3 separate regions of the Homo sapiens genome follow, and regions 1 and 3 are each linked to region 2. Evidence: fine-mapped QTL for protein levels in blood plasma. A gene starts in region 2. Each other region holds a variant in brackets. All regions are shown on one strand. Distances are between the middles of the regions.

Region 1 (2,722 bases), 39 kb after region 2:
TTTAAAGGGTTGAGAGGAATATCATAACCACTGAAACAAAAATGATAAAGATTATTAAGGAATAAATACATCTCAAATGATTGTTGTTTTTATTAATAATCATGTGTTCACATTAACCAATTTAGATAACATGCCACTTTGCCTAGACCACTTTATTTCTAAGTGTTCACAAACAGCAAACACAGAAAATGGTGTATATTCTAGAAACCACTCTAAGAAAAAAAATCCTTAAAAAAACTAAGAAAATCATTTATTTTATGATAAAATATATGAATGATGGAAGAGACGGATTATAGTAATGAATCTTTAGACACAGATTTTTAAGAATTAATTTTCTTTTATGTTTTAGAGGAAGCTTTCTCACCATCATGTATAACAGTTGTAAATAAAGCCCAAAATACTAAATATGTTTTTTAGGAAAAGTCACATAAAATTAGTATCAAGTATTAAAAAGGGCAGGCCCATGAATCCCTGTATAGCAACTTCATTTACTTTTTTAGGCAATGACAAGTTGGAATCAAATGTACCACAATTAATCAAAATACCAGTGTACTTTTCTATAGTTGGCAGAAGACAAATGGCTTCAAAAAAGAGTCCCATTTAAAGTATGCTCCTTTATTTCCAACTACATATCTACAATCAGACATCCAGTTATACTTATTTGAATCACTCTAACCCTCTCTTCCTTTGAGGAGCTTAGAGGAAGGAAGGCAGAAAGAAACAATGGATAGAAAAAAAAAAGAAAGAAATGTCAATTACAATTTTTCTACAGAAGAATATTCTCTGCCTAGGACTAGAAGCATTAATTTTGCTACTTTAGCACTTTAAAAATAATTCTTAGAATTTGATATTCTGCATTCATGAGTACAGAAGTATGTCCCAAGTCAAAATGCAATGAACATATAATTAAAAAATAATGAACAATTAGGATAAGCATTTAAGAAGGCATTCAATATAAATAATTTACCACAAAATGTCTTCCAATCAACAGAAAGGATGCATTTGAAATATGTATGTGTTACAAGTAGTAGTTTCATCTTGCAAGTGCCTTTATCAGTGCTGAACAGTAGAGATTAGAAAGTCTTATTCAAGGAAGGCTGAATGCTTTGATATTTTTTTCAAATATGAGTTA[A/G]GTTTAGGTTTATTACAGAAGGATAAGGAAATTGCTGGTCCTGAATATATACTTGCCCTAATAACACATTATCACTATAAAAATTATAACAGCATAGGCTAGAATGTAAAAACATCTATTATTTAAACTTTTATCCAACAGTTATGTTTTCTTAATATAACATTAAGAAGATTAACTTCTCCTATTAGTCTCCTTAGAAATATGATAATCTTATGGCCATGAAAATAAATATATTTCATTATGCTTTATACCTGAACAGAAATTAATACTCACCTATGGACATCAATAGTTTCTAATAAACGAATGGTCACCCATGCCCAAAGAAGAATTACATGATCACACAAAAGCACGATTCCAATGAAAAATCCAGTTCCAAGAATTAGAGTCTCCAAAGGATGTGCATATTCAGCTTCCATTCCAAATGGAGCCTAAGACAAACAGATAAGAAATTCTTAATTTCTTAGCTATTGTGATGGTCAATTTTATGTGTCAACTTGGCTAGGCTATGATATCCAACTGTTTGATTAAATACCAGTCTAGATGTTGTTGTGAAGGTATTTTTTAGATGTTGTTAACATTTAAATCAGTAGACTGAGTAAAGGTGATTACCCTTCATAATGAGGGTGGGCTTCATCCAATCATTTGAAGGCCTTCAGGATAAAAGGCTGAGGTTTCCTGAAGAAGGATTCTCGAGACTGCAACACTGAAACCCTGCCTGAGTTTCCAACTTGCTGCTCCATGGAATTTGGACCCAAGGCTGCAACAATTCTTACCTGGATTTCTAGTCTGTAGCCTGCTTTACAGATTTCAGACTTGACAGCCGCACACTTGCATGAGCTGATTCCTTAAAATAAATCTCTCTCTGCATATATATACCCCAATGATTCTGCTTCACTGGAGACTTCACTAATATATATATCCTATTTATGCATAAAGTTTTACAAAGTTATATTGATTCTATATGTAGTGATGATTTATCTAGTCATACACTTATAAATAATACTAGCAATTCTCAATAAAAATACCTTACTCCACATCAAAAGTCTAGGGATATAAAATCTTGCTGTCTTTGATGGTTTAAGATAAAGGCATTAAATAATTGACTTGAACTCTAATTTTGACTTAAGTATTTATATTTGTTCTTCTAATAAAGAGAGGCTTGATTTGGCACACCATGTAATCACGGTCAATGCAAAACATACTCACATAACCAGTTGACAAAGCTACATCAAAGCAATTCTAATTGGCCGGGCATGGTGGCTCACGCCTGTAATCCCAGCACTTTGCGAGTCCAAGGCGGGTGGATCACCTGAGGTCAGGAGTTCGAGACCAGCCTGACCAACATAGTGAAATCCTGTCTCTACTAAAAATACAAAATTAGCCACGCGTGGTGACGCATGCCTGTAATCCCAGCTACCTGAAAGGCTGAGGCAGGAGAATTGCTTGAACCCAGGAGGTGAAGGTTGCAGTGAGCTGAGATCATGCCATTGCAGTCCAGCCTGGGCAACAAGAGCAAAACTCTATCTCAAAAAAAAAAAAAAAAAAAAAAAAAGCAGTGCTCATAGAAGTTACTGTTTTTGTGGGAGTTAG
Region 2 (2,770 bases):
GTTGGAATAAAGACCCCATCACAAACTATTCATCTCAAATGGTTATAGCAGAGAAAATGGAATACTCCTTTTTCCTTGGAAAGGCCTTGTGCAGTTTCAAAATCTGGTTTCAAAAGTCAGAAACCACTTTTCACCCTGGTAGGAGGAGGGGCACCAACGTATCTTTATACACCACCACCCCAGATTGGCAATATCCCTAAGATTCCCCAAGCATCCACAGCAGCGAGTGTACCTAATACGTATACACACACAGGTAGAGATGGGTACACAGAGCCAATAAACTGGTCCTCTGGAAATTAGAGAAAACATGATAAATGACTCTTTCTCCCTCGTTCTCCTTTCCTCTCAATCACTGCCTTCTGCACCTTATCTTTCTACTCTTGTCAGCAAGGAAGACCAACCCCCCTTGCGGGGGACTCGCAATCATTCCTTTGGGTTTTTCACACAGCAAAGTGAGAGCGACCGCTGGGGTTGCGTGCGTCAGGATTTGTTTTTTCTGTATTGCTATCCCCCCCATCCCCCGCCACCCCAGCCTCCCAAGCCTATACTTACTAGAGGGTGGCCTAAGGTCTGGGGAGATGGGATTGGTGCTGGGGGGATGGGACGGGAAAGCAGAAATTGGGCCACTGGCGCTCTAAGTCGGGTTCTTCCCCATTTCCATCCCTCCCTCCACTTCCCACCTTCCACCTTAGATACCTTTTACCAAGAGGCACCCCTGGGCCCATCCCTCCCTCCTTCCCCCACCGCCACCAGTCCCACCCTCTGCCGCCCCCCTCCGGGATGCCCCCAGGGCTGTCAGGGGGCAGCGCCCTTACCAGGCTCATGGACGCCAGGGTTGTCGGACAGCTCGATGACCAGGAGCTCCCGGCCCTCGAAGCTGCGCCCCACCGTGTAAATCCTGCTGATGGCGGTGCACTGCAGCCACACGGACACGAGCGCCTCGCGCAGCTCGGGGTAGCGGTGGTACTCGAAGGAGATGCCGTCCTCTTGCTGCAGCCGCCGGCGCCGCCTCATGCCCGCCGCGGGCGCCCCGGGCTCCTGGGCTTCGGCGCCCAGGAGCCACCCGCAGGCAGCCAGTGCCCCGCACAGAGCCAGCAGCGCGCTGCCCCCTCGCCCGGCCATCGCTGCGCTCCGCCGCCGCCGGCCGTGCCTTCCTACGCGGGCGGCCTCTTTTGTCTGCCCGGCCCTGGGCTTAGCCCGCCGGCGCTGCTGGGGGCGGCAAGTTCCGCACCAGCCTCTACTCGCCTCACCTTCCCCGGCTGAATGAGTGTCAGCCCGCGCACTGGGGCCACCCAGAGGAGACGGGCAAAGCCGCGGCTCCACGGGCTGCACTACTGGCCGCGGAGCCCAGGGGAGCTGCAGGAGAAACCACTGCGAGGAGGGGGCCGGCGGAGAGACGGGCCGGCGTGGATCTGGGAGGGCTGCTGGCGTTATTTGCTGGCTCGGAACCACGTCAACAGCCAAATGGCGTCCGGGACGACGCAGGTGAAATGACAGCTAAGGTCCGGGGTTCGGGAACGTTACTGTCATTGAGACACCCATGACCCACCCACGTCACTGCGTATGGAAAAAATATTCTTGTATTGTTAGTGGAGCCTTTTAAAGGGACATCTATTCCAAGCCTACCAGTTTCCATCTTGATCCACCAAGAATTAGAGAATATTCCAGAAAAAAGGAAGTACTGGCAGCCACTTGCCATCTCCTGATGCGTCTTTCATAATTGTATCAAGAGTCAAAACACAAACCCAAGGGTTGGGTTTTCATTTATTAGAAGGTCTTGCTGGAAATCAGAACATTAAGTGCTTTGATTTAGAGGTTTAAGAGAATAGAAATGCTTTCTTCCAATTTGTAGATACTGTCCTTAATTGTATTTATGCACATTCCTAGATTCTTCCAGAAAACAAACAGACAAAATAAATAAGGCAATGTCATATGGCTGTGCCTGCACCAGCCCTCCTCTTTAATACTATGGGGAAAATAAGTACAACTCTGCTGATGCTTTAGACAAAGGATTTAGTTTGGCATTAAGATTAAATCCTGTTAAGAAAACTCTGATGATGACATGACACCTCCGTTCCTTTTGCAAAGCTATTGTAAAAATAAAAAATCATTTACAGCTTTAAATATCCACCCCTTAGTCGGGATTTATATTCCTGGAGCAATGTCTGGAGCAGATGTTACTCTAAAGAGGCTGCTGTTTGGATTCAGGGACAGCACAAATCTAAATTAATAAATAATCCATTGGGTATTGCAACCGAGCAGGAAAAGTGGACACCATGCGGGTAATTTTCCATGTTAAGCTTCTTTGTTTTTCTAAACTTGTTCATTCTTCACCTGTTTAACAATGCATTGCACATAATAAAAACTTTTACGTGGAAAAGGAGTTAGATATTTAAGTCATCTTATTGGATCAATAAATAAAAGCACAGACATGGTTGGTAAGGTGCTGCTGGAGGGGCTGGCTTTAAACACCCCTATGTACATATACTACAGCAGCATGGATCTTCTTTTTTTTTTTTTTTTTTTTTTTGCGTTTTCGGGGAGAAACTGTCACTGTAAACACATGGCACTCAAGTTGAATTGATGTGGATCCAGCCATTTTTTTTTTTGTCAATGTAGGCAGAGCTAAAAATTGTATATTTTCCACTATGACCAGTCTGTGCTTGATTACATGGTCCAGAAGTTTGAAATCAAACTTATAATTATATTTCTAAAACCATGCCCAAAACAGCAACCTTGGAAGCCTAGAAAAAAAAATTGAGTAGCTAAA
Region 3 (2,764 bases), 120 kb before region 2:
ATTCGAGGCCCGCCTGACCAACATGGTGAAACCACATCTCTGCTAAAAATACAAAAATTAGCCGGGCACGGTGGCGCACGCTGTAATCCCAGCTACTCAGGAGGCTGAGGCAGGAGAATTTCTTGAACCCGGGAGGCAGAGCTTGCAGTGAGCCAAGATCGTGCCACTGCACTCCAGCCTGGGCGACAGAGCAAGACTCTGTCTCAAAAAAGAAAAGAAAAAAAGAGGATGTAACTTATAGTTAATTTTCTGCCTTTGGTTATTTAGTGAGCACCTCCTGTCAGCCTTGAATCTTTTCCTAATGTGGGAGGGAATGTGGAAGAATACAGTTCAGCATGCTGGTATCCCAAACCACAAGGTTCTGCTATCCAGAATCTTGAATTTGTTAAAGAAACTGACAAAAGCACGTATGTGTCCAAGCCACTCTCTTTGTGAATGGGAATCTTCATCAGGTCTAGGGAGAAGCCACACACTCCGCATAAAAGGCTATTCAAAGTAGGCAGCCCCCAACCCCAATCCCCTCAGGCCCCATCCCAGATGGAACTAAGAGTTTCTTGATTTGGCCACTTAAACGCCTGATTATTTTGGATCGTGATTACACTGACTATATCCTTGCACTAACACATGCCAGAAAGACAAAGGATCAAAATAGTTGAACCTTTACAACTTGTTCCCAGGGCCATTTTTTCCAGGTTTCAGTTACCCAAATATACCTCTTGATTTTAATACATATACAGCCCAATGTAGACATACATGCACACAATCAAAACCATATACCAGTTAAAAACTCAAGATATTTTGTTTGCATAAATCAAGCATTTATACTCCAAGTTTTGGGTACATAAACAAAAATAATAATAAATTCTTTTCAAGTAAGCTTTTTAGACTTTCAAGAAATCCTACAGGTATTCCCACGGTCCCAGGCATATAATACAAAGGTAGTAGTAAAATTCTGCTCTAAGAGAAGTTTTGGTCTTATCACCATCACCTTCCTAACAAACAAATGAGATCTACTTAAATAAGATATGGTTTTTGATACTACTTAGCACAGAGAGCCTTGCACATAAAATATGCTAAATAAGTGTTTGGTTACCACCTAAAATTTTCTTATATGCATCATTTTTTTTTCAAATACTTATTGAGAAAGGCACTGCGCTAGGTGCTAAAGATAAAAAGGCAAATGAAACATAATCCCATTGAGATGGAAATCAAGGTTAGCAAATAAAAATTTAATTTTTTAAAGTTTTATTTCATTTTCTTGTAAATCTCTTCAAAAACTGAGAAATGGTAATAGAGCTTCATATTAACTTTGCTAAGCCTCAGTTTTCTCATCTGTTAAGTTGAGATAACAATGTTGCCTACCTCATAGGGCTAGTACGAAGATTAAATATAAATCACTTCAGTATGCCTGACAATGATAAATGCTTAATTATTATTATAGCGTTTGGCTATTATTATGATTACTTACCCCAGCAGCAGGGCTGTAAGGAACTGCCACTTTCTTTGTTATTGCCAGATAGCCTGGAGCTGAG[G/A]CTGTAAGTTTATAGTTTCCAGGTATAAGCAATCTCCAGTAATCACCATCCTTTGCTGTAGGAAGGCAGAATATCAAATCACAAAGCACATGAAATATGCAGAATTACACAATGCATAATTATGCCATCTAAGGAATACCCAGTCTAGCTCAGTTCACCTTTTTTGATTCTCGATTTTTAAAGTAAATATATAGGGAATTTAATGAAATTTTATTGAATAGGGTGTGAAACTCTCTTTACAGGCTTCATTTCTTATAGCTACTTTATAGATATCAATGTTAAATTGTCTAATAAACCTCGTACGATCATAGATCTTCTAATCACATCAGGAGCAACACAGGTAAAAAGACAGATGAATTCCCCAAGCAGCAGGGTCAGAACATACAGCCATCATGTTTTGATTCTTGCCAGGTGAAGACCTGCTGGTCAGAGAATCTTCACAGAGTGTGGGCCAAAGGTAGCCCTTGTAGGATCTCTGAGGTCCTAGTTAGAAATTTAGATTTCTAAAGACTTAGAATACACTGGGCACCCTAGTCCATTCAATCTCCCATTTACCTAAGTCAGTGATTTTCAAACTTGGGTGCAAACCTGGGAACTTGGTAAAATGAAAAATCTGATTCCAGCTCCCAGGTTCTGCATTCCTGACCAGCCCCAGGGCAATGCTAAGGTTGCGAGCAGAGGCCACACTTTGAAGAGCAAGGTTTTCGTAGACACTTCACACCTTCTCCTTTTTCCTAACACCCCTACACATCCTGTTCAACCTCCCAGTTGTTACTTTACATCTTATTTCATTGCAAAAATAGGTACAGTCAAAAAAATTAAGCCCCCATCACCGTATCATCAAATCTACCTCTAAATCTACATCTCCTTGCAGCTAGTGCCTCAATTGTCTTTTTGCTTTATAGCAAAATTTCTGGAAAGGTTTGTTCATGTTCTCAATCTCAGAATGGTTCTTTTCTTATTCTGTCTTGGACCCAGTCCAATCAGGATCCCACCATTCACTCCATTGAACAGATTTTTTCAAGATCCTCTGAACTGCTAAATCCAAGGATTCATTCACAAGGTTCATCTTAATTAACGCTTTTTCACTCCCTTCTTCTTGAAGCACTTCAAAGCCTCCAGGACAACACACTTCATTTTCTACCTTCAGTACAACACACTTCATTTTCTACCGTCAGTTCTATTGCTGGTTCCTTCTTATTATCACCTTGTCCCTGAAAAGCTGGAGTATT

Alleles and levels. Positions count from the first base shown, and alleles are read on the strand shown. Strength reflects both the effect of a copy and how common the allele is.
As copies of A replace G in region 1, the plasma level of the protein whose gene starts at base 1,336 in region 2 goes down (strong association).
As copies of G replace A in region 3, the plasma level of the protein whose gene starts at base 1,336 in region 2 goes down (moderate association).

What was found. PIP is the posterior inclusion probability: the model's chance that the variant is causal. Protein levels are from antibody-based Olink assays in UK Biobank. Linkage for the fine-mapping came from a reference panel and not from the study's own genotypes, which makes the PIPs less certain.
Region 1: its variant is fine-mapped to the plasma level of the CPE protein (UK Biobank, PIP above 0.99).
Region 3: its variant is fine-mapped to the plasma level of the CPE protein (UK Biobank, PIP above 0.99). The variant lies in the coding sequence of CPE. If it changes the protein, the assay may bind it differently, which can mimic a change of level.

The regions. Positions count from the first base shown.
Region 1 is chr4:165,339,059-165,341,780 of GRCh38, reverse strand. It overlaps MSMO1 (methylsterol monooxygenase 1), which reads right to left. Exons shown (of 6, transcript NM_006745.5): 5 at 1,406-1,560; 6 at 1-30. Among named protein-coding and RNA genes, the nearest start is that of MSMO1, 13 kb to the right of the region's middle. The variant A/G (reference allele first, on the strand shown) is at 1,133.
Region 2 is chr4:165,377,574-165,380,343 of GRCh38, reverse strand. It overlaps CPE (carboxypeptidase E), which reads right to left and starts at 1,336. Exons shown (of 9, transcript NM_001873.4): 1 at 816-1,336. The coding sequence starts at 1,122. RefSeq lists a silencer at 1,044-1,303.
Region 3 is chr4:165,494,382-165,497,145 of GRCh38, reverse strand. It overlaps CPE (carboxypeptidase E), which reads right to left. Exons shown (of 9, transcript NM_001873.4): 8 at 1,469-1,587. Among named protein-coding and RNA genes, the nearest start is that of MIR578, 110 kb to the right of the region's middle. The variant G/A (reference allele first, on the strand shown) is at 1,533.